3 separate regions of the Homo sapiens genome follow, and all the other regions are linked to region 3. Evidence: fine-mapped expression QTL. A gene starts in region 3. Each other region holds a variant in brackets. All regions are shown on one strand. Distances are from middle to middle.

Region 1 (8,178 bases), 42 kb after region 3:
AGAGATGGGGTTTCACTATGTTGGTCAGGCTGGTCTCAAACTCCTGACCTCATGATCCACCCACCTCGGCCTCTCAAAGTGCTGGGATTACAGGCCTGAGCCACCACACCCAGCCTCAAGGGTGCCACCTTTCTAGCTAAGAACACTTCAGTAGTTTTCTGGGTTTTTTTTGTTTTGTTTTGTTTTGTTTTTTGAGACAGGGTCTTGCTCTGTTGCCCAGGCTGGAGTGCAGTGGCATGATCTTGGCCTACTGCAACCTCTACCTCCTGGGTTCAAACGACTCTCCTGCCTCAGCTCCCAGCCCCCAAGTAGCTGGGACTACAGGCATGCACCATCATGGCCAACTAATTTTTGTATTTTTAGTAGAGACGGAGTTTTGGCATGTTGGCCAGGCTGGTCTCAAACTCCTTACCTCAGATGATCCGCCCACCTCAGCCTCTCAAAGTGCTAGGATTACAGGCCTGAGCCACTGTGCCCAGCTCTAGTTTTCTGTTCCTACAGAGCTCCTGCTTCCTCTTCCTTTCAAAAAACCCAAGGCCAGGCCTCAGGATTTCCACCTGCTTGTCTGGCCCCTTCTTTTTCTGGGCAGGTTCTGGGATGTCTAGAGCTATGGTTTGGGCCTTTTCTTCCTTCCATGTACACATCTATCCCTGGAACAGGAGCTATTCCAGTCACAGGTCTCTAGAATCTAGAAGACTTCATGCTGAGACTAGCATCCTTACTTCTCATAGCGGCTCATTAAATGTTATTATGCTGGCTACTCTGGAGATTTCAATATTTAAAAAGGTTTCTTCGGCCAGGCACAGTGGCTTACGCCTGTAATCCCAGCACTTTGGGAGGCCGAGGCAGGCGGATCATGAGGTCAGGAGATCGAGACCACAGTGAAACCCCGTCTCTACTGAAAATACAAAGAATTAGCCGGGTGCGGTGGTGGGCGCCTGTAGTCCCAGCTACTCGGGAGGCTGAGGCAGGAGAACGGCATGAACCCAGGAGGTGGAGCTTGCAGTGAGCTGAGATCGCAACACTGCACTCCAGCCTGGGCGACAGAGCGAGACTCCATCTCAAAAAAAAAAGGGTTTTTTCTAGGGAAATGCACTTTTGTTATTTCCTGTTTAATTTTTTAAAATGGGAAGGGGAACAGAGTACTGTAAAATAAGTATAAGAGTCGGGGCGTGGCTGTGCGCGATGGCTCACGCCTGTAATCCCAGCACTTTGGGAGGCCAAGGCAGGCGGATCATGAGGTCAGGAGATCGAGACCATCCTGGCTAACACGGTGAAACCCCATTTCTACTAAAAATACAAAAAAAAATTAGCCAGGAGTGGTGGCGGGCGCCTGTAGTCCCAGCTACTCTGGAGGCTGAGGCAGGAGAATGGTGTGAACCCGGGAGGTGGAGCTTGCAGTGAGCTGAGTGAGCCACTGCACTCCAGCCTGGGTGACAGAGCAAAACTCCGTCTCAAAAAAAAAAAAAAAAAAGAGTCGGAGTGCAGTGGCTCACACCTGTAATCCCAGCACTGTGGGAGGCCTAGGATAGAGGATTGCTTCAGCCCAGGAGTTCCAGACTAGCCTGGGCAACATAGTGAGACCCCATTTTTACAAAAAAATCAAAAAATTAGCCAGGCATGGTGGTATGCACCTGTAATCCCAGCTATACTGGAGGCTGAAGCAGGAGGATTACTTGAACCCAGGAGGTCCAGCCTGCAGTGAGCTGAGATCATGCCACTGCATTCCAGCCTGGGCTACAAAGCAACACCCTGTCCCCCCAAAAGAAACAAAAATTAAAAGAAAAAAGGTAAGTACAAGCCATGATTGGAGCTGGGCAGGCAATGAAAGGAGAAGTAGGAATCGTTTGGTGCCCAGCCTAGAGGTGAGAGTGACTGGCAGCTGGGGTGGGCCTCATGTCTTCTGTTGGAGAAATGGAGACCAGGGGGCCCAGAAGACAGGTCTCCGTGATGACAGGGTGAGGAGCCGGAAGTTCAGTGACCCAGGGCAGGGTGTGTGCTCTCTCGGCAGGCGAAGCATGAAGCGGAAGGCACTATTCACCTGCCCCTTCAACGGGGACTGCCGCATCACCAAGGACAACCGACGCCACTGCCAGGCCTGCCGGCTCAAACGCTGTGTGGACATCGGCATGATGAAGGAGTGTGAGTGTCCAGGGGCTGGGCAGGGTTTGGGCCTGAAGTGGAGTCAGGGAAAGGCCTTGGCCACTCTCCTGCAAGTTTGGGCAGAGGGTCTGCCTGCCCTTCCTCTGTAGCTGCCAGCATCTGGGGCCAGGGCCTCAGTGGGACCAGCAGCTGGTGACAGGGCAGCTGGAAGTCCAGGGTCAGATGCACTCAGCGGCCCTGTGCACCTCTTGAGGATCTGTGTGTTGGTGTCAGAGGCCCTGGAAGGGTCCCTCCAGAGTGGGGCCTGAGAGGAAGGAGAGGCCGGACACTGCCTTCAAGAGTCCCTTCTACTCCTGGGTCAGGGTCTTCCTCCAGGATGTCATTCTTTTTTCACAGCTCCCTGTTACTCGGACCTAGAGGGAAGAATGAGGTTCAAGGACCCCCAGGTTCTATGGGCTTGGGAAGAGAGGGCTGATGTGGGTTAGGAAGGGCAGGAGTGATGGGGAGAATTAGTATTCAGAGCATAGTTGGCATCCACGTTCTGTCCCACCCCAGCCTCCCAGCCTCTCTGGCGCCTTGAGCAGATCTGAGGGCTTGTGCCAGGGAGAGACCAGGAGGAAAGAGTCTGCCAGGGGAAGCACTGGGTTCTAGGACGACCCTCTGAATCCAGATGGAGAAAGAGGAGTGATTCTATAGGACTTCCTGTCCCTCTCTGGGGTTGGAGAAGACCAACATGGCATATTTACATGGATATTTTGACCCATCACTGAAAACAACACTTGAACTTTGCATCAGAGCTCTAGGACAGTTATTTGGTAACTAGAGTAGGCATTGAATTCAGTAGATGCTGGGAGGGGCCAGCCTGGCCCTCTCTGGGCTGGAGCAAGGCCAGCTGGGCATGGGTGCTCTCTGTACACTCATTCCTTTTTCTCCTTCTCTTGCTCACTCCTGTCTGCCATCTGCATCCAGACCCCCACCCGGCCCTAGGACAGAACCCAGGCCCTCCTAGCTGTGGGTCTGAGGAATCGGAGTCGGAGTCGGGGTGGGGATGTTGCTCAGATGCGGACCCTCCTGGCTATGGGACCGTTTGGAGTGGTTGGGG[A/G]TGGGGAGAGGTCAGGTAACAGGAAGATGTGTCAGGGACAGAGGATAAGTCACAGAACAGGGCTTAGAGGATAGCAAATTTCTCCGTTAATGGGAAAAAAATTATCTGTTGTTGGGACACAGAGGCAGAGCTGAGGCCCTGACCCTGGGCTTCCTCTTTGGGCCTTGACCTAGGCTTCTCTTCTGTGGGTCATGACTCCTCCCTCCTGATCTGACGGCTCCCCAGCCAACACTGGCAGCCCTGAAAGGTGTTTCCAGGGCTGTGGTTTCTCCACACCATCACAGGGTGCAGGCCTGGGCACGCTGGTCGCTCCTACCCTAGTCCCTGCCACGCCCTGGCTCCTGTGTTTATCCTGGAGAGAATAAGAAGTGGAGGCTGGAGGCCCGGGTGCCTTAAGAGGCTTCACACACATTCTCAGTGGGCCCTGCTCAGGGTGAGGCGTTAGGGTGGGCACCAACAAGGTGTGCTCAGCACAGTCCCATCTCCGCAGAGAAGACAGCCTCTGCAAAGCAGGGAGTCCGGTTTCTAAAGCTCCAGCTAACCAAGACTGGCACGAGGTTCCACTGCAGTGGTTCGTAAGGCACTGCCACAGGAGTTCCCCTCAGGACTAAGCTCACTGATGCCCAAGAGGCCCCTCTCCTACCTCAGGAGGAAGAGGATGTCTTACTGACTTAAAATAGAAAGAACATCTGAGACTCAGAGAGGTAAAGACCTCAGGTCTGGGGTCAGAAAGCAAGTTGGTGGCCAAGCTGGGACTAGAATCAGACTTCATGTCCCCTCCTACCTGCCTCCTGGTCCCCATAAACAGCGCTGCATCCATGGTGAAGAGCAGCACCAGCCTGGGGTAAATCAGGGGGCCCTGCCCAGGAGCACCCTACCACGTGGTGGGAACCCAGCAGCCCAGAAGCGATGTCCACCCCATCCCTCAGCCACGCCCACCCCAGCCTAATTCTCTCCTGTGGAGTCCTGTGTCCCCATCCTGCTGTATGCCCAAGGTAGCTTCTCGCCACACCACCCTCCTCATCCCAGTGCAGGGAGCAGTACTCAGTTCTAGATGGGCTGGTGGAGCGGGGATCCAGTTAAAATAGAAACGTCCTGATGCTTTTTACTTTCCTGAAGGGAAGACTGTCCAGGAAGAGACATTCCCAGCCTCAGGTTAGTCCAGCTTCAGGAGGCCTCACCAGTGTGAAGTCCCCCGGCCTCAGAACCCTGGGAGAGCTGCACATTTCTTATCTGGGCTGGGTTTTGTCCCCAAGGCATAGCATCCCAGAGACAATTGAGTGTCTCAATATTTGTAAAACCACAGGAAGAAAGCTAAAAGCCCAGGCTCCTGCTGTCCGAGCAAGGAGGTGGGCCTTCCATAGAAGAGGCACAGGAAGGGAAAGGATGAGGACAGAAACCCTGTGTATTGACCAACTACTGTGTGTCAGATAGCACATCAAGCACATGCATTTTCTTCTGAAATTCTCACAACACTCCCTAAATACGTAAATACTTTTATTTTTTCAATAGCTGAGGAAGCTCAGAGGAATTAAAATATCATGGCTCTCAGCTAATAAGATGATGGTATCAGCATTCATTCTAATCTAGGTCTTTCTGCTTCCAAAGGGCAGGCTTGTGGGCCACACCCGAGGCAGCCTCTCGTGGCCCCAGTGGGTCGGAGCTCACTCCATTGTGCATTTCCAGGCACTTTCACATGCTCTAAGAGATGGATTGAAGAGAGCTTGGTCCCACCAAAGACTCATTTTCTCTCTTTTCCATTCTTAGTTGACTTTATACCCTGGGAACCCAAGAAATTTTATAACTGAGTTCTTGCTTTTTGCTTATACTATTACCTGTCCTGCACAGAACCACACATTGTGGTAACTTGTTTGATGTTTTTACAGATGTATGTCTTTTCTCCCTGGTGTTAGTAAAGTACCTGGCACATAGTAGGTGCTCAATAAATGTGTGGAATCAATGAATATTAGCTCCTCATTATGCTTCTTTCTCTCTGTATATCTTCCACAGGTCTATAGATCAGTAAGATTCTCCCAAACCTGATCATGTCTGTGCCGTTCATTTGGAAACATTTTATGTCCTCTTCCTGTGGTTGTTCTTAGCCCATCCTTGGCATCTTGAAATGTTTTCAAATTGTTTATGTTGCAGATCTTGGCTTCGTTAAGGAGAGAACATGTCTTGCATGGGAATAACTTGCGCAAAATTATTTCACACTCAGCAAGGAGCTTAAAATGAAGTCAAAAAAAGCTTCTGAGCAGCCATGTAGGTTTTACAAAGTCCACATGCCAAAACTCATGCACTTTAGACGCCTGATCACCAGACAGCCCAACACTCTTTCAGAACCTGTTTACTCTTATTCTAGGTCAATGGCTTCATATATCATATAGTGTCTTCCTATATGATAGTAATGACATCTTAGGTTCAATCCATTGAAAAAATGATAAGAAATTTCCCATGAAATTAACAAGATCTTTAAACAAATTATTTCGTAAATCACAGTGCATTTGCATATGTGAAAGACTTTAGACTTATTCAGTCCTCAAGCAATGTTGCCTTGCAGAAGGCTCATGGATTGGGCCTGTGTGAAACTGGTAGATCTCAGCATTTCTTCCTCTGTTACCTCCATAGAAGATGGAGGTTGCTATTTGATGCAAGTGACTGGGAGGAATCATGTTATAGGGTTAAACTTGAACTTTCTTTGTCTCTTTAAAGTGGGTAATTTACAAGCTTTGTGACTTAATTTTATTTTCACACTCTTCAGATGGATTGGAACACAATGCCTGTCAAAACTCCATGGCTGAAAGCCAAAGTCCGCTTATAACCAGATGTAATCAGACACAGTAGAGGCTAGTGGTTATGACCTTCCACTCCAGAACCAGACTGCCCAGGTCTAAATGCTGGTTTCACCACTGTTAGCTGTGTGACTTTGAGAAAGGTAGAAAGCCTCTCTGGGCCTCAGCTCCCTCATCTGCTAAATGGGAATAACAACAGCACCTGCCTTAAAGGGTTGTCATGAGGGCTAAATATATGAGTTAATATACAAAAGGCTCTCAGAATAGTGCCTTATAGATAGAAAAACTCTTTATGTGCCATCCAGCATTACGAATATTTTCTTTTTATTACATCAAACTTGATCACCAGAACTTCTAGCTCCCAAGAGATCAGAAGTAAGTCTTAAGGGGGAGAAAGGCACACATCCAGAGGCAGACACCAATAAGAAGACAACGCATAGTTTAACAGGGAGGTGGACACTGGAAGCAAGAAAAGCAGCCCAAGAACTCCAAAGCCCAGCACGCCAAGCCATGCAATGCGGGGCAGACAGCCTCTGACAACTCTGAGGCTGTAACCTTGTCCTGCAATGTTCAGTAATTATTCAGAATGATACCTCTGAATCATCAGGGAAAGGTTATATGACGTTAAAAGTGTTCCGTTACAAGGTTTTCTGTCTTGAAAATCTTTCCATAACAATTGTTTCAATAAAAGAGGTCAGCTTTCTCAGCTCTCTGGTGTGCCAGGTGCCATTCACTACATTGCAGGAGACAAGCAGCACTAGAGTACTCACTAGCCTTTCCTGAACCAGGAAAATGATTTGCACACAGTTGGTGTAATCTGTGTGGATGCATTTGATATTTGGTGTCAGACTATTGAGCAGACACCACGGCCAGGTAGCCCCTCCGGTCTAGCCTTTATGGGGGAAATATAAGAATTGTAAGACAAAGGCCGGGCATGGTAGCTCACGCCTGTAATCCCAGCACTTTGGGAGGCCAAGGCGGGCAGATCACCTGAGGTCAGGAGTTTGAGACCAGCCTGGCCAACATGGTGAAACCCCATCTCTACTAAAAATACAAAAAAATTGGCCAGGCATGGTGGCATGTGCCTATAAGCCCAGGTACTCTGTAGCCTGAGGCAGGAGAATCGCTTAGAACCCGGGAGGTGGAGGTTGCAGTGAGCCGAGGTGGTGCCACTGCACTCCAGCCTGGATAATAGAGCGAGAGTCTGTGAAAGAAAGAAAGAAAGAAAGAAAGAAAGAAAGAAAGAAAGAAAGAAAGAAAGAAAGAAAAAGAAAGAAGGAAGGAAGGAAGGAAGGAAGGAAGGAAGGAAGGAAGGAAGGAAGGAAAGAAGGAAGGAAGGAAGGAAGGAAGGGAAAGGAAGGGAGAGAAAAGAAAGAATTGTAAGACATGGACCCTGCCCTTAAGTAACTTGTAATCTAGAGAAAGAGACCTTGAACTTCTTGGGCTCCGTCTATAGGTAATGAATTGAAAACTGTGCTAACCATGAGTCTTACAGAGCAGAAGATAATTGGGTGTCAATGTGTGTGGGAAAGACTAAATATGTAGCAGGCATAGGAAATGAGGCTCAGCAGAAAAAAACAAGGCTTGATGCAGATCAGGGCAATCAAGAAATGCTTCATGGAAAAAGATGGCTATGATGTAGGCACTGAAGAACTGGTAGAACTCATACAGGTTTGGGGGAGAGAAAACCCAGCTGGACGGGCACCTAGCACAACTGGAAATGCAGGGGCGAGCATGAGCAGGTCATGTTCCCAGGCCAGCAGCAATGCCAGCATGCCCAGAACAGAGGCTGTGTCCAGAAGCACTAAGACATGAAGTCTGAAAGTTAGGAAGAGGCCAACTTTAGTTTGGACGTGGTCATCAGTAGGGGCCGAGAAAAGTATCTGGGCAGGAGAATGGCATCACAGAATCACTGGAAAGTTAGCAAAGTCCAGTCAGGCTGAGCTACGTGCCTGTAGACACCATGGTGTGGCTGGCAGAAACAGGTCTCCCTAACTCTGGTCCCCAGGTGAGCAGGAAAGACAAGACACCTAATCTTGGGCTCCCCAAGCGAGGGCTTACCCCCATTGCCTTCCCTGGATGCTCCCTGCCCCTTCCTCTCCCACCCTGCCTGACCTGGTAGGGTCTGTGCAGACACCCACTGTGGGAGGAGAGTTGGCAGCTGTTTGGGCAGGTGAGTCA
Region 2 (8,178 bases), 61 kb after region 3:
AAAAAAAAAAAAGGAGTAGAAAACAAGCATGTAAAGAGCAGAACTGGAGGAGACGGGCAAAATAAGAGCACCAGCAATGTTCAAGGCATCACAATGACATGGCCCTAACTGTGCTAAAGAGTCAGAAGGTGCGGGGCTCCAGTGGAAAACACAGTGGATTCAGGACCAGAAAAACAAAATGGAGAATTAGAAGGGTATTCCTGGCTGGAGCTGTAGTATGCTGAAAGGCGTGGTGATGGCTGGGTGCAGTGGCTCACACCTGTAACCCTGGTTCTTTGAGAGGCCAAGATGAGAGGATCACTTGAGGCCAGGAATTTGAGACCAGCCTGGGCCACATAGTGAGACACCATCCCTACAAAAAAAATTTAAAAATTAGCTAGGCGTACACCTGTAATCCCAGCACTTTGGGAAGCCTAGGCAGGCAGATCACAAGGTCAGGAGATCGAGACCATCCTGGCTAACACTGTGAAACCTCGTCTCTACTAAAAATACAAAAAAAAATTAGCTGGCCATGGTGGCGGGCACCTGTAGTCCCAGCTACTCGGGAGGCTGAGGCAGGAGAATGGCGTGAACCTGGGAGGCGAAGCTTGCAGTGAGCCGAGATCGCGCCACTGCACTCCAGCCTGGGCGACAAAGTGAGACTCCGTCTCAAAAAAAATTAGCTAGGCGTGATGGTGTGCACCTGTAGTCCCAGCTACTTAGGAGGCTGAGGCAGGAGGACTGCTTGAGCCCAGGAGTTTGAGGCTGCAGTAAGCCATAATCATTCTGTTGCACTCCAGCTTGTGTGACAGAACAGGACACTGTCTCTAAAAATACTAATAAAAGAAATTAGCTGAGCATGGTGGCGCATGCTTGTAGTCTTAGCTATTCGGAAGGCTGAGGTGGGAGACTCACTTGAGCCCAGGAGTTTGAGGCTGTAGCATGCTATGATCATAACACTGCACTCCAGCCTCAGCAACAGAGTGAGATCCTGTCACAAGAAAAAAAAAAGGCACAGTGAGAACACACAGCATCTGAATGTGGAGTGGCATGATGCTGCTAGAATGGAAGGTTGGTGGAGTTTACCATGGGAAAGGGAGTTGGAATGAGAGGTTGGAGCCAAGTTAGGGAGTGTGGGCCTGATCCTAGGGTGTTTGAGAGTCAGTGAAGATTTCTGAGTGCAAGAGGACATTGACCTGCAGCAGTGGTAAGAAAGATGAATGAGAGACTGGAGAGACACAAGTCTGGGATTCCTGTAAGAGGCTATTGGAAAAGACGCTGGAGCTCTGAACCAGGGCACTCCTGGTAGGAGTGGGAATAAGATCACGGGCTTGAGAGACATCCTAGAGACAGAGTTGGCTGAATTTACTACTGAGAAGGACTGGAGGACAGTAGGAGGGAGAGGAGGAGAAAACTTGGGTGTTGTTGAAGATACCATGGCCCTACCTTTTGCAGACCACCATATTCATGCCTCAATGCTGGGAACTTCCCTGGGCTCCGTTTCCTGTGCCCCATAGCTCTGGCTGCTTGGTCTCTGAGTTTTTCTTGTCTTAGTAACTGAGCTACTTCACTTCTGGCCTTGGCACATGATCACAGTGTTGAACTGTTCTCTCTCAAGGAACACTCTTGTCCCTTCCAGCCAGCCTGCAAGCTCCTCGATGAAAGACCCAGGGTGCATGTTGGTGCCCAGCAGGTGTATACCTGTCAAAGCACTAAACTGATTTGTGTGGCTTGAAGGCGTTTACTGGTAACCTGACCTCCTTCCCTCCCTCCCCTGCAGAGACCTCACCTCTGAGGACCAGATCGTACTGCTGAAGTCAAGTGCCATTGAGGTCATCATGTTGCGCTCCAATGAGTCCTTCACCATGGACGACATGTCCTGGACCTGTGGCAACCAAGACTACAAGTACCGCGTCAGTGACGTGACCAAAGGTATGCCTAGACTCCACCTCCTGGGGAGTCTTTTTCAGCTCCCAGATTCTGGCTCCACCCGTCCTGGGGTTTGGCTCCAATCAGATACATGGGAGGGAGTTAGGCACCAACAGGGAGAGAAGGGCGAGGGTCAGACCCATGGGGTTGGAGGTGGGTGGGCGGCTCCTCAGCTCTGCCCGCAGTACCTGGCCATTGTCTCTCACAGCCGGACACAGCCTGGAGCTGATTGAGCCCCTCATCAAGTTCCAGGTGGGACTGAAGAAGCTGAACTTGCATGAGGAGGAGCATGTCCTGCTCATGGCCATCTGCATCGTCTCCCCAGGTATGGGGCCAGGCAGGGAGGAGCTCAGGGACCTGGGGAGCGGGGAGTATGAAGGACAAAGACCTGCTGAGGGCCAGCTGGGCAACCTGAAGGGAGACGTAGCAAAAGGAGACACAGATAAGGAAATACCTACTTTGCTGGTTTGCAGAGCCCCTGTGGTGTGTGGACGCTGAGGTGCCCCTCACTGCCCTTAGCTCTGCCTTGCAGAGTGTGCAGGCGATTCGTAGGGGGGATTCTGAGGAACTAGATAAGCAGGGTTCCTGGGGCCACAGACAGGCCTGCGCATTCCCAATACTCAGGCTCTGCTCTTGCGTGAACTGGGCTCAACATTCCTGTTATTTGAGGTTTCTTGCGGGCAGGGTACAAAACTTTGGAGCCTGAGAGATGGTTCTGCCTATATAGTTTACCTGATTGATTTTGGAGGCAATGTGCAGTGACCCTTGACCTCTTCCGCTGGTTAGAGGTGAGAAGAGGGAGAAAAGGCCGAAGAGGAAGTTATTGTGACCTTGGGGACATGATGTCGGTGATGAGGTCCAAAGAGGGGCGGCCCTGCCTCAGCCTGTGCTAGTGGCCTGTGCCCAGGGATGCTTTCCTGGACTGGAGGCTCAAGGAATGGAGATGGGCTCCTCTACCCCTGCCCAGCCAGCCTTCTCTCATTCATTCATCCACTTAGCAACAATTTATTGAGCACCTATTAGGTACCAGGCACTATGCTAGGTACTGGGGTTCAGCAGCAAATGGGACACAGGCTCCTCTCCCATGAAGCTTAGGAGGAAACATTAAACAAATGTTATTTAATTATTAATTCCTAACAAGGCAAGAGTTTTAAAAATAAAGTAAGTGATGCTACAGAAGGGTAGAATAGAAGGAGGGAAGCTGACGTGGTCTGGGCTACAGAGGTAGAGTGTTGCCAGGAATGGCCTTTTGGAGGAAGACCTTTTAAGCTGTTATCCAAAGGATCAGTAAGAGTCTGGCAAAGATAGCAGAGCAGAGTTCCAAGCAGAGGGAGCACAGATGTGAAGGCTGGTGGCCAGAGAGCATGGCGCATCGGGACGCTGAGGGATGGACAGAGCATGGACAGGGAGCAAGGCCAGGCAGGGACAGGGCCAGGTGCGCCCATGGAAGGACCTAGGTCTGGATCCTAAATGCACGGAGAAGTCACTGGAGGGCTTTGGGGCCAGGCAGTGGTATCACCGGTCAGCAGTCATAGAGGGGTGGCCTAGGGGGTGCTGCCGTTGAGTGTCTGTGTGGGTGGGGGGTGGTGGGATTGAGCAGTGAGGGGCCCAGCTGAGAGCTCCTGTGCCTTCTTCTCTATCCCCGTGCCCACAGATCGTCCTGGGGTGCAGGACGCCGCGCTGATTGAGGCCATCCAGGACCGCCTGTCCAACACACTGCAGACGTACATCCGCTGCCGCCACCCGCCCCCGGGCAGCCACCTGCTCTATGCCAAGATGATCCAGAAGCTAGCCGACCTGCGCAGCCTCAATGAGGAGCACTCCAAGCAGTACCGCTGCCTCTCCTTCCAGCCTGAGTGCAGCATGAAGCTAACGCCCCTTGTGCTCGAAGTGTTTGGCAATGAGATCTCCTGACTAGGACAGCCTGTGGCGGTGCCTGGGTGGGGCTGCTCCTCCAGGGCCACGTGCCAGGCCCGGGGCTGGCGGCTACTCAGCAGCCCTCCTCACCCCGTCTGGGGTTCAGCCCCTCCTCTGCCACCTCCCCTATCCACCCAGCCCATTCTCTCTCCTGTCCAACCTAACCCCTTTCCTGCGGGCTTTTCCCCGGTCCCTTGAGACCTCAGCCATGAGGAGTTGCTGTTTGTTTGACAAAGAAACCCAAGTGGGGGCAGAGGGCAGAGGCTGGAGGCAGGGCCTTGCCCAGAGATGCCTCCACCGCTGC[C/A]TAAGTGGCTGCTGACTGATGTTGAGGGAACAGACAGGAGAAATGCATCCATTCCTCAGGGACAGAGACACCTGCACCTCCCCCCACTGCAGGCCCCGCTTGTCCAGCGCCTAGTGGGGTCTCCCTCTCCTGCCTACTCACGATAAATAATCGGCCCACAGCTCCCACCCCACCCCCTTCAGTGCCCACCAACATCCCATTGCCCTGGTTATATTCTCACGGGCAGTAGCTGTGGTGAGGTGGGTTTTCTTCCCATCACTGGAGCACCAGGCACGAACCCACCTGCTGAGAGACCCAAGGAGGAAAAACAGACAAAAACAGCCTCACAGAAGAATATGACAGCTGTCCCTGTCACCAAGCTCACAGTTCCTCGCCCTGGGTCTAAGGGGTTGGTTGAGGTGGAAGCCCTCCTTCCACGGATCCATGTAGCAGGACTGAATTGTCCCCAGTTTGCAGAAAAGCACCTGCCGACCTCGTCCTCCCCCTGCCAGTGCCTTACCTCCTGCCCAGGAGAGCCAGCCCTCCCTGTCCTCCTCGGATCACCGAGAGTAGCCGAGAGCCTGCTCCCCCACCCCCTCCCCAGGGGAGAGGGTCTGGAGAAGCAGTGAGCCGCATCTTCTCCATCTGGCAGGGTGGGATGGAGGAGAAGAATTTTCAGACCCCAGCGGCTGAGTCATGATCTCCCTGCCGCCTCAATGTGGTTGCAAGGCCGCTGTTCACCCACAGGGCTAAGAGCTAGCGCTGCCGCACCCCAGAGTGTGGGAAGGGAGAGCGGGGCAGTCTCGGGTGGCTAGTCAGAGAGAGTGTTTGGGGGTTCCGTGATGTAGGGTAAGGTGCCTTCTTATTCTCACTCCACCACCCAAAAGTCAAAAGGTGCCTGTGAGGCAGGGGCGGAGTGATACAACTTCAAGTGCATGCTCTCTGCAGCCAGCCCAGCCCAGCTGGTGGGAAGCGTCTGTCCGTTTACTCCAAGGTGGGGTCTTTGTGAGAGTGAGCTGTAGGTGTGCGGGACCGGTACAGAAAGGCGTTCTTCGAGGTGGATCACAGAGGCTTCTTCAGATCAGTGCTTGAGTTTGGGGAATGCGGCCGCATTCCCTGAGTCACCAGGAATGTTAAAGTCAGTGGGAACGTGACTGCCCCAACTCCTGGAAGCTGTGTCCTTGCACCTGCATCCGTAGTTCCCTGAAAACCCAGAGAGGAATCAGACTTCACACTGCAAGAGCCTTGGTGTCCACCTGGCCCCATGTCTCTCAGAATTCTTCAGGTGGAAAAACATCTGAAAGCCACGTTCCTTACTGCAGAATAGCATATATATCGCTTAATCTTAAATTTATTAGATATGAGTTGTTTTCAGACTCAGACTCCATTTGTATTATAGTCTAATATACAGGGTAGCAGGTACCACTGATTTGGAGATATTTATGGGGGGAGAACTTACATTGTGAAACTTCTGTACATTAATTATTATTGCTGTTGTTATTTTACAAGGGTCTAGGGAGAGACCCTTGTTTGATTTTAGCTGCAGAACGTATTGGTCCAGCTTGCTCTTCAGTGGGAGAAAACACTTGTAAGTTGCTAAACGAGTCAATCCCCTCATTCAGGAAAACTGACAGAGGAGGGCGTGACTCACCCAAGCATATATAACTAGCTAGAAGTGGGCCAGGACAGGCCCGGCGCGGTGGCTCACGCCTGTAATCCCAGCAGTTTGGGAGGTCGAGGTAGGTGGATCACCTGAGGTCGGGAGTTCGAGACCAACCTGACCAACATGGAGAAACCCTGTCTCTATTAAAAATACAAAAAAAAAAAAAAAAAAAATAGCCGGGCATGGTGGCGCAAGCCTGTAATCCCAGCTACTCAGGAGGCTGAGGCAGAAGAATTGAACCCAGGAGGTGGAGGTTGCAGTGAGCTGAGATCGTGCCGTTACTCTCCAACCTGGACAACAAGAGCGAAACTCCGTCTTAGAAGTGGACCAGGACAGGACCAGATTTTGGAGTCATGGTCCGGTGTCCTTTTCACTACACCATGTTTGAGCTCAGACCCCCACTCTCATTCCCCAGGTGGCTGACCCAGTCCCTGGGGGAAGCCCTGGATTTCAGAAAGAGCAAGTCTGGATCTGGGACCCTTTCCTTCCTTCCCTGGCTTGTAACTCCACCAACCCATCAGAAGGAGAAGGAAGGAGACTCACCTCTGCCTCAATGTGAATCAGACCCTACCCCACCACGATGTGGCCCTGGCCTGCTGGGCTCTCCACCTCAGCCTTGGATAATGCTGTTGCCTCATCTATAACATGCATTTGTCTTTGTAATGTCACCACCTTCCCAGCTCTCCCTCTGGCCCTGCCTTCTTCGGGGAACTCCTGGAAATATCAGTTACTCAGCCCTGGGCCCCACCACCTAGGCCACTCCTCCAAAGGAAGTCTAGGAGCTGGGAGGAAAAGAAAAGAGGGGAAAATGAGTTTTTATGGGGCTGAACGGGGAGAAAAGGTCATCATCGATTCTACTTTAGAATGAGAGTGTGAAATAGACATTTGTAAATGTAAAACTTTTAAGGTATATCATTATAACTGAAGGAGAAGGTGCCCCAAAATGCAAGATTTTCCACAAGATTCCCAGAGACAGGAAAATCCTCTGGCTGGCTAACTGGAAGCATGTAGGAGAATCCAAGCGAGGTCAACAGAGAAGGCAGGAATGTGTGGCAGATTTAGTGAAAGCTAGAGATATGGCAGCGAAAGGATGTAAACAGTGCCTGCTGAATGATTTCCAAAGAGAAAAAAAGTTTGCCAGAAGTTTGTCAAGTCAACCAATGTAGAAAGCTTTGCTTATGGTAATAAAAATGGCTCATACTTATATAGCACTTACTTTGTTGCAAGTACTGCTGTAAATAAATGCTTTATGCAAACCAATTTGCCTTATCCTTATAAGGACCTTATGGGAGATGAATCATTATTACCCCCATTTGACAGAAAGGATAGCTTGAGCAATGCCACACTAGCAAGGGATGGGATTTGAACCTTCAGCAGCTAGGTTCAGAAGCCACAAATTAACTGCTACATTGTCCTGCTTCCTATTGAGTTGGGGGACCTGACAGACGACTGATGGTCTTGCTAGCTCTCTCCTAGAGAGGAGATAAAAGAGGTTCCCATTCCTAAAGCAGGCCCTGAGCCAGGAAAATTAGAGGTGCTGGACCAAACTGTGCTCTACTCCCAGGAAGTGTGCAGTCAATATATGACACCTACGTGAGACCCTCAAAAATGAAAACCAAACAGCTACTGGCAAAACTGTGTCTGCCATTAGAGATGGCGGCTGTGCCAGTGACCTGGAGGATTACAAATGACTGCTGTGCAGAAACAGGACTCCTAAGGGGCCCAACTTATGCCGATGCACTCCATTCTGCTTCCCAAGGAAGTGGGGTTTATGATGAAGGGTAGCATTGCTAGGCACAGTAAACAAGAACACAGCATTGTGATCTGAAAATAAGGAAATCATGCCAGCTAATGTATTGATTGAGGATAAGTTGGCCTGGGGATGTGATTCACTCTAATTTTTCAGAAACATCTGAAAATATTTCAAACCAAAGGCTAAAATGTGTTTCAGTGGGATGAGATGGACTTAGGGGAATTGGGGTTAGAACTTGAGGGTTATTTTGTGAAACATGAAGGGACTTAGAGAAAGGAAATCAACAGCTGCATAAATGGGCATGTCTCTGGCTGGAGAAATGTGGAGAATGGAGTTCTGATACACTGTTAGAAGGATCTTATGTAGCATTTTTATAGCTGACCTAGAAGAACACAAAATTTCCAAGGCTGTGTTATAATGCGCTTTTCCAGGTAAACCAAGAGGAATATACCCCAGGAAGGTTGCATAATTAGGATCAAGTGTTTTCAAGTTTTCATATTCCAAGCTTTGGTTCTATGCCTACACTGTTCAATCCAGTAGCCACTAGCTACATGTGAGTATTTAAATGAAATAAAGGTAAACATCTAGCTTGTCAACCGCACAAGCCACAGTTCCAGTATTTGATAACCTCAGGGCTACCGTAAGAGACAGTGC
Region 3 (8,178 bases):
TTCTAAATGAGGGGGTCCTATGGTGAGAGGGACTTGTTCTGTCATTCAGAAAGGCAAGATTCCATCAACTCCCTGGATGGAGTCTTCTGTCAGTTGGCTACTCAAACAATAAAGTCCGCCTAGCCCATGATCTAGGGCAGGATTTTTTTTTTTTTTTTTTTTTGAGACAGGGTCTCACTCTGCCTCCCAGGCCTCAAGCATAGTGGCATGATCATAGCTCACTGCAGCCTTGACCTCCTAGGCTCAAGCGATCCTCCCACTTCAGCCTCTCAAGCAGCTTGGACTACAAGCGCACACCACAATGCCTGGATAATTTTTAAATTTTTTGTAGAGATAGGGTCTCACTATGTTGTCCAGGCTGGTCTCAAACTCCTGGCCTCAAAGTAATCCTTCCACCTCAACTTCCTAAAGTACTGGGATTACAGGCCTGAGCCACTGTGTAGGGTAGGATTTTTAATACTGTATTTTGGGTCACAACCCATTAATGGGCTGTGAAATAAATTTGGTGGATCCCAAAAGGAAAGGAAGGAAGGAAAGAAGGAAGGAAAAGAAAGGAAAGGAAGGAAGGAAGGAAGGGAAAAGCAAGGAAAGAAAGAAAGGAAGGAAGGCAGGAAGGAAGGAAGAAAGAAAGAGAGAAAGGAAGAAAAAGGAATGAAAGAGGGAAGGAGGGAGGGAGGAAGGAAGGAAAAGAGGATAGAGAAAATAATAGAAAACATTGTAGAACATCTTTTGTATCAGGAACTTATATATATTCCTGAGTAAACTAGGTCACAGTAAAAACTTATTTCTTATTATGGGTTGCAGTTAAAATTTTGAAAAATACTGTCCTGGGAAGACCCCTTGGTTTGCTTTCATTGCTACAGCTTCTTACATTTATTCATTCTATTTTTACCATCTGGAACATAAATAAGGAGAGTCATCCCTGATCCTTTTTGTCTTAACTTGGGTTAGGAAATATAAATGAATTAATCTTTCTGAACTTAACGTGTGTTTTTTAAAAAATCTCTAAAACAAGGGAACAAACTGAAAAGATGGCCTGGTCCCTTCTGTCTTTCTAACTCCACGCTCATGTCTCTCAGAATGTTCTCTGGGTGTTTACTGAAGAGAGGCTTCTCTTCAGTCCTACCGTGCTCATAACCATAAAATATTTAAGGGGGGAAAATGGCCCTAAAAAAGGGAAAAACAAACAGTCAGATGGGAGTGTTCCAGAGAGAGCTCAAAGGGCACATTTTTACCTGCAGAGCAGCCTTTAGACAGCTCAAAAAACCTCTGTCCATGGGGACAGGGTCTCTGGGAGACTCACAGGGACAAAGTGACCCACTCTAGCTCTGACACCACAGCAAGAAGTGCAGAGAGCATCAGCCAGCCTCGAGGACAGTGGCCAGGCTGCAGAAAAAGGAAGCCCAGAGATGAGGACAGGCTGCAGTCCTGTGGCCTGACTGTAGCCACAACTGCCCAGGCCATCCCCAGGTGCCTGGAGCCTGGCAGAGAGGTCAAGAGACCAGGCCCTGCCTTTCTTTGGACTCTGTGGAATGAAATGCACAGGAATGAAATGAATGAAACGAAATCCTCAGCCTAGTACCTCTGGAATCTTTCCATCAAAGTCAGATGCACCGGGAAGGGCTCTTTTGTTTCTATATAGATTTTTGAGTCTATAGCACTATAGCAGAGTATCTAGCACACCACCAGACTTGGCTAATATTAACCAAGCAAGTGCTTACGAGATATTCCCTGATGTAATTTGGCAGAGATGAGTACTGACAAAAAACAATCTGTACATCCCAATAAAGACCACTACCCATCCCAGGGATAAGTGAGAATATGAGAAATGTTAACTTCAGGGAAAAGAAAAATTAATGTCTTCTGCAGAGGTTCTGGTACCTGGTTTATGGAGAAGTCAAGATAGGGGAATTTAAAACTATTAACTCTGTAGTGCAGGAATGGTGCTTGTCATCGAGGCATCAAGAGAACACGGTGTGGGACAGCAACCTCCCTTTCCAGTTGTGTACCTGGCTAGGGAGAAGTAGGGTCCAGAGACAATTAGGGATTACAACAGAACACAGGAGAAGTGAATCTCATATGATGTTGCTTTTCTACTTTCACAAAATAACCTTCCTTCTAAGAATAAAACAGGCAAAAAAAAATCTATCTTTGTTCAATGTAAATACAAGATGGTTCATTAGCAGGTGCCAAACCATGCAATATAGAAAATGCATGCGCTACAAAGACCAGAGAATTGACAGTTCCTTTCCTGGAGATGTTGGAAAAGCCTGATGGAATAGGCAGGACCTGAAAGAGGAGAGGGTCTGGAGAGGTGGATGAGAGAGAACAGTTCAGGTATTGGGGGAATATGGGAAGAACATGGTTACAGACAAGGTGACGGGGCTGATGACGGCATGTGCTGGGGACCGTGATGACATCTATAATCTTGCCCATCTGCCAAACGCAGAACCTCTGAGTTCTTCAACTCTGTGAAAAGTGCATGCATGGAAATTTTTTTTTTGTTTTTTAGAGGCAGCATGAAACAGTGGGATGTGCAGAGAGAAGATCTGGGTCCAGTAGCTCTGACACTCCTCAGCTGTAGAAACCTTGACAACTCTGCACATCAGTTGTACAATGGAACGGTATTTTTTACTCTTCATGTCTGAAAAGGCTATGATAAAGATCAAGTAAGATATTCCAAAGAATTTTTAAATTATAAAGCAGTTTACACATGTGAATTACAAGTACCTCTCCTCCAACAAAGGCTGTGAAAAAAGACTAACTCTCAGTTACTACGGAATACTTAGTACGCATCTTCCACCATCTTTTGATAAGGTTTATTTGCAAGATGTCAGGCCAGTCAAGCACCACAAAAGTGACTTCTGAGTGTTCAACCTCTTTCAGAGGCTCATGGGACTTGCAGAGAATGTCCCAAGGTATTGGTGGTTGGAAATTTCCTCTTATGCTTTTCTTCCCACAAGAATCACCGCTAGCTTTCCCACGATGCTTTGGGCAAGGGGATCCTTCCTATTACTTTCATTACAGGTAGAGAATCCATCCATCAGACTGGCAGGACCTCTAAAGGGGCACTTCATCTGTTTCTCAGAATAAATGGTCCATTCCCAAGTTCAATCAAACGCTATGCCTCTCTTCTGTCTTTTGTTTAAGTCTTCCCAGAAAGTTGCCATGATACCTCCATAATGAACTGTTGCAGTGCTTAACAAACTTCACTGTTGGAAGGTTCTTCCTTCTATTTAATCTCAGTCTATTTCTTTTAACCCTATTATTGAGTTGTGAGGGGCTGGTTATGATGTAGTCCAGCATAGCTGTCTCAGAAATGGTTCAGAGACCATTGCACCAGCAGATTTGCTGGGCTCTAGCACTAGTCCTTCATTGATTAGCTGAGTCATGTTGGGCATATCACTTAAACTTTCTATGCCTCAATTTCCCACCCTTTCACCTTGTCCCTCTGAGCCATGGTTTCCTCCTCTGTAAGAGGCGAATAGCAATATCTTCCCTGGCTAAAGGAGGTCATCGACTGCTGGATGATTTTGTGAGCATTTCTATTCCAGAAGATTATGTTGTAATTACTATTTATTTATACATTCTCCCACTGCACAGTGAGTTCTAAGAAGAGGGAACCCCATCTTTTTCACCTGTCCTCTAGCAGATAGAGCGGTGCCTATCACACAGTCAAGGGAAGCAGAGAATAACTTTAAGCCAAAATTTCCTGTGGTGAGTTTTCCGCAGCCATCCACAATTCCAGGTCTCAGGAGGTAGTCTTTATCTTTTCCCCTCACGCCGATGCCACGGGGCGGGGGGGGAAGGCGGAACTCGGGACCAGGGACCAGGGAAGCTGAGACTCAGCTCCCTTGGGTGAGATTCGCGACAGGCCGGGAACGTGGTCAGCCGCGGTCGCTGCCAAGGTGATATCGGGTGGGAGCAATGACGCAACTCCGGTTTCCACTTCGGCCCCCCGGGATATTTTACCCTAATCTGTGGGATCAGGCTGAGCTTCCTGGCGTTCTGCAGCAGTAACAGGTTGGCGAGCGGAGCCCGGGATTTCCCATTCGTGCGGAGCTAGCCGCCGGTGCCAGTCGGCAGGCGCCCCCCAGCGTCCCGCGGACGACGAAGTCCTGGCCTGGTCAGCCCAGGTGGGGGTGACGCACCTGGCTCAGGCGTCCGCAGCAGGCTGGGTAGAACCACGGCAGGAAGGGTGGGGGGCTGCATCCCCGATTAACACAGGCTGAAGCGGGTATCCGCACCTATAATCATCGACAACTCTGTCCCACAGAGGGCAGAAGCGTGCCTTGCCCTATGGACGACGGTCGATGAAAATTTCACGAGTTAGAGTATCTAAGGCTACAGCGTGGCCTATAGGGTGGTTGATTCCAAGTCAAGATGGTTGCAGCGCCAACGGAGCTCCTGGCAAGAGAGGACTGGACCTGTGGGCGGGGCGGAGGGGCGGGGCGGGGCCGGGGCGGGGCCTGACCGAGAGGCGGGGCCAGGTGCTGGGCTGTCTCTGCTTGTCAAAAGGCGGCAGCGGAGCCGTGTGCGCCGGGAGCGCGGAACAGCTTGTCCACCCGCCGGCCGGACCAGGTGCGAACCCGGGAGCAGCGGGAAAGGGGGTCTCAGGATAGGGACTCGGGGTCGGGGCGTCTGGGATACCGGGGCCTGAGCGCCCGGCTGCGAGCATTAGAGTCTAAGTCTCAGCGGTAAACTTGGCTACTGAGGTCCGGGCTGTCGTGCCATGAGGCTGGGACACTAAGGGGCACTGAGGTTTGAGAAAGCTGAAGTTCGTGCCAGGCTGGCGAGGGGAGCAGCGACATCCTCGGCGCTTAGGAGAAATGCTCCGCTAACACAGTGCTTAGCACTTGGGCAACAAGAAGTATTTGTTTCCTTCTTCTGTCGGGGCGCCTTGGCATGGAGTGGAGGAATAAGAAAAGGAGCGATTGGCTGTCGATGGTGCTCAGAACTGCTGGAGTGGAGGGTGTGTAACCTTATTTATTGTCTTACAGGGCCCAGGTATGGTCACCTGTGATGGTGGAGTTGGGTCTTTTAAGTAATTTTTTTTTTTTTTTTTTTTTTTTTACTTTTCTTTGAACTACCAATGAGTTTAGACCTAATTGGCCCTATTTTTTTTCAGGACAGCCTGTCAATAGATGTTCAGAGGAACTCAGGGGCAAGCATTTAAATGAGGAAGGGGCTCAAGGAGTAGTTTCTGTTTGAAAAGTGAGGTGCCCTGGATCTGTGGGTGGTGGTGAGGAAGATTCAGAAGTATCTAGGAGGGAACAGCCTGTGGTCTCCAGGGCCAGTGTACAACTGCCCCTCCTTCTCTTCACCCAGGGACCAGAGTCTGAGACCTAGCCTGGGCTGGGGGAGCCTTAGGTCTCCAAGCCCAGACCCTTCTCACAGTTCCTCCTCCTTCTCCTCCTCCTCCTCCTCCTCCTCTTGTTCCTCCTCCTCCTCTATGCGTGCGGTGAGTGAGTCAGCCTCCTGTCTGGGCTCAGTTGCAGCCAAAGGGGCCAGAGCCCAGGCAAGCAGTTGGGCAGGCATTTTCTGAGCATTGCAGAAGCTCTCCTGGGCAGAGTTCAGCTCTGCTCCAGCTCCCTGCTGGAAGGTGGTCTTCCTCATGGGCAGGGGCTCAGATACCCAACACAGCAGTGCTTATGGAATGGCTATGAGATGATTCTAGCAGGAGGTGACCGTGAAGGGATAGTGGCTTTATGATAAATCTACATCTCATCTTTCTCCTGGGATAAGGAGGTGCATCCCAGCACTGCAGGCTTTTCCAGCCCTTCCTTCCATTTCTGCCTAGTGGTCTCATTAGCAGCCCATCTCTGCTAGTGAAGGGGGTGAGCAAAAGAAATTAGGAAAGTCTGGGGCCAGAGAAGTCATGGTGTTGGCAAAGAAGGCTTTAACTCAGGCTAGGGAGTGAGGGTGATTTGCTGAGGTAGAAATGGGTTATCTGAACATTGGAGCCTCAATTCTATGGACTAAGAGTGTTGTGTGTTGAGAGACCTGCCGTCCCTTCCCTGTCCAAGTGCTGGAGGGAACTGTGAGTCTTTCTGAAACAGTCTCAGGGCTGGCATGCAGCCAGACCAGAAGGTAGTAAGACTGCACATTTCTCCCTGGCTTTTGTTTTGGGTGCTAGAGATCGTTGAACAGAAGTAGCCCTCCCTGCAGAGTCCGTGGCCCCCACTCAGCAGCCTCTCTGGACCTATTTGAGAAGAGTCCTGGGAGGCCAATCCAGCTGTGGGGCTGACTCAAACTGCAAAAAGCTGGGGAATTCACAGTCTATGCTCTGGCTGGGTCCCATGGCTTTGGGTTTGGCTGGTCTTGATCAGCTGTGACTTGGACCCTTACCAAGCTAAAGGAGGGACTAGAAAATGGGGTAAGAAAGGAGGGGAAAAAATGAGAGTTAGAAAGCCTTCCCAACCCTTTACTCCTCTTCGGCAGAGGCCATCAGACTTTGTTTGTATAAACATTATGGAAGGTCGGGTGCTGTTTGGGGTGCCCTGATAGTTTGTGTTTATGGTTTCTCAGTATTCTTCCCCTATTTGACCTCAAAACTGATCTCTTTTGTAACTAAGCCCCAGAGGAAGCTCCGAGAGGACCTCCTGAACCCCTACACTCTACCCCCAGAACAGATAGCAGGTGTCCAAAGCCCAGGCTGTGAATGGAGAAAGGCCTGGGACCGAGTGGGCTACATCAGGTGGCTACTACATCAGGTGGTTATCTAAGACACGAAAGGGAGTTCCCATTGTTTCATTCCTTACCCCACATCCTAAGGAGGCACCGCTGTCCTGGCTGGAATAGGCATCTGGAACCTCTGCTAGAAACTCGCTGTTGCCTGTGCAGCAGTCAGGTCCTAGGGGCCAGAGAGCCAGAGACGGGAGGACCACCTAGATGACATTTGGTGTGTTGCTGAATAAAGAATTACAGGGCTCCAGCTTCCATTTGTCCCTGCTGCAATTCTGTTTTGGATGCAGGTAGAGGGAAATAAGGAATTGACCAGATTTGATTAAGAGCCTCTTGTGTGCCCAGCATGACTCCAGGCCCTCTGAGGGATAGCAGGAAGCAGAACCCACCAGACCAGGCCCCTGACTCCAAGACAGTTTGAGCCCCAGGGTGGGCAGCAGTTCTCAGGCTCTCCCTCCACTATTGTCCAGTTCTGAGAGGATCCAGCTGGGCTGAAGCCAGCCTGGCTGCCACTCTGGGCCACCAAGGCCTTGCTTGTCATTTTGCTTCCCTCTGATTTGTCCCTAACCTTTTCCTGTGTCAGTGCCCTCCTAGATATGCTAGAAAGAGTGCCTGTGTAATGTATCTTGCAAACTGGGATACTTCTGAGAGTGAAAGGGGATGCCATGCATGGTTATACCAGGACAATGGACATAAACCCAAACTTTCCAGGGAAAAATGGAATATTAATCACCCTAGTGATCATCACTCCAAACTCAGCAGAGGTCACAGCAGTGATGAGGGGATGATAAGGTTGGGGGAGGCTTAATGCTCAAGGGAAAACAGGGGTAGCTTAATTCTGAGGACAGCCCCCGACACCCTAGCCTGCTCCCTGGTGTTATCAGCCAATTCTCGTCTTTTCCCTGGGGCGGCACTGCTCCCGGCCACCCTGTCCTGGGACCCAGCCCACCACTCGTGTGACTTCCCTTCACCCTTGACTTGTGACTGGCCTCACCTTTGGTTTTCCTGCCCCACCCCAACCTCAGACAGGGACAGGAAGGTCTGCCAACTCCTCTTCAGCTTCCCCTGGGGAAATTGGGGTTCATAGTGGAGCCAAGACTGGGCCTCACGTTTCCTCTTCCCTCTTCCTCCATATCTACAGCCTCCACATTTTGCTCATCCAGCTTCCCAGACCTCTGGGGACCACACTATCCCACAGAAAGTCTGGCTGTAAAGCAGGTAAGCAGCCAGGAAGGCAAGGGTAGGCAAACCTCGCCCACTCTGATAAAGGACATAGGTCACCTATAATCAGGTTCCGGGGAAATGAAAAGCAAAGTGGAGGCCAAAGCCAGGGAGAAGCTGCATTGCAGGAGACAGAGTCAGTTCCCAAAGACACTAGAGTTTGCCTCTTTGGTCTGGTCTGACTATTGGGGAAATGGTCCAGGGTGGGGAGAGGCTGTTCTTGCTCAATCCAAGTGACAGGCGTTGATGGCAGTGCCTGCATCCCGCTGTGGC

The links. PIP is the estimated chance that this variant, and not a neighbour inherited with it, causes the effect.
Region 1: its variant is fine-mapped to the expression of VDR in nasal epithelium (TOPMed, PIP above 0.99).
Region 2: its variant is fine-mapped to the expression of VDR in whole blood (TOPMed, PIP 0.96).

The regions. Positions count from the first base shown.
Region 1 is chr12:47,859,011-47,867,188 of GRCh38, reverse strand. VDR (vitamin D receptor) reads left to right here. Exons shown (of 10, transcript NM_000376.3): 4 at 2,012-2,142. Among named protein-coding and RNA genes, the nearest start is that of LINC02354, 34 kb to the right of the region's middle. The variant A/G (reference allele first, on the strand shown) is at 3,206.
Region 2 is chr12:47,840,390-47,848,567 of GRCh38, reverse strand. VDR (vitamin D receptor) reads left to right here. Exons shown (of 10, transcript NM_000376.3): 8 at 1,760-1,911; 9 at 2,117-2,233; 10 at 3,563-7,031. The coding sequence ends at 3,822. Among named protein-coding and RNA genes, the nearest start is that of LINC02354, 15 kb to the right of the region's middle. RefSeq lists enhancers at 2,187-2,688, 4,213-4,785, 4,786-5,359. The variant C/A (reference allele first, on the strand shown) is at 4,130.
Region 3 is chr12:47,901,358-47,909,535 of GRCh38, reverse strand. It overlaps VDR (vitamin D receptor), which reads left to right and starts at 4,542. Exons shown (of 10, transcript NM_000376.3): 1 at 4,542-4,581. RefSeq lists a silencer at 4,420-4,549 and an enhancer at 5,933-6,132.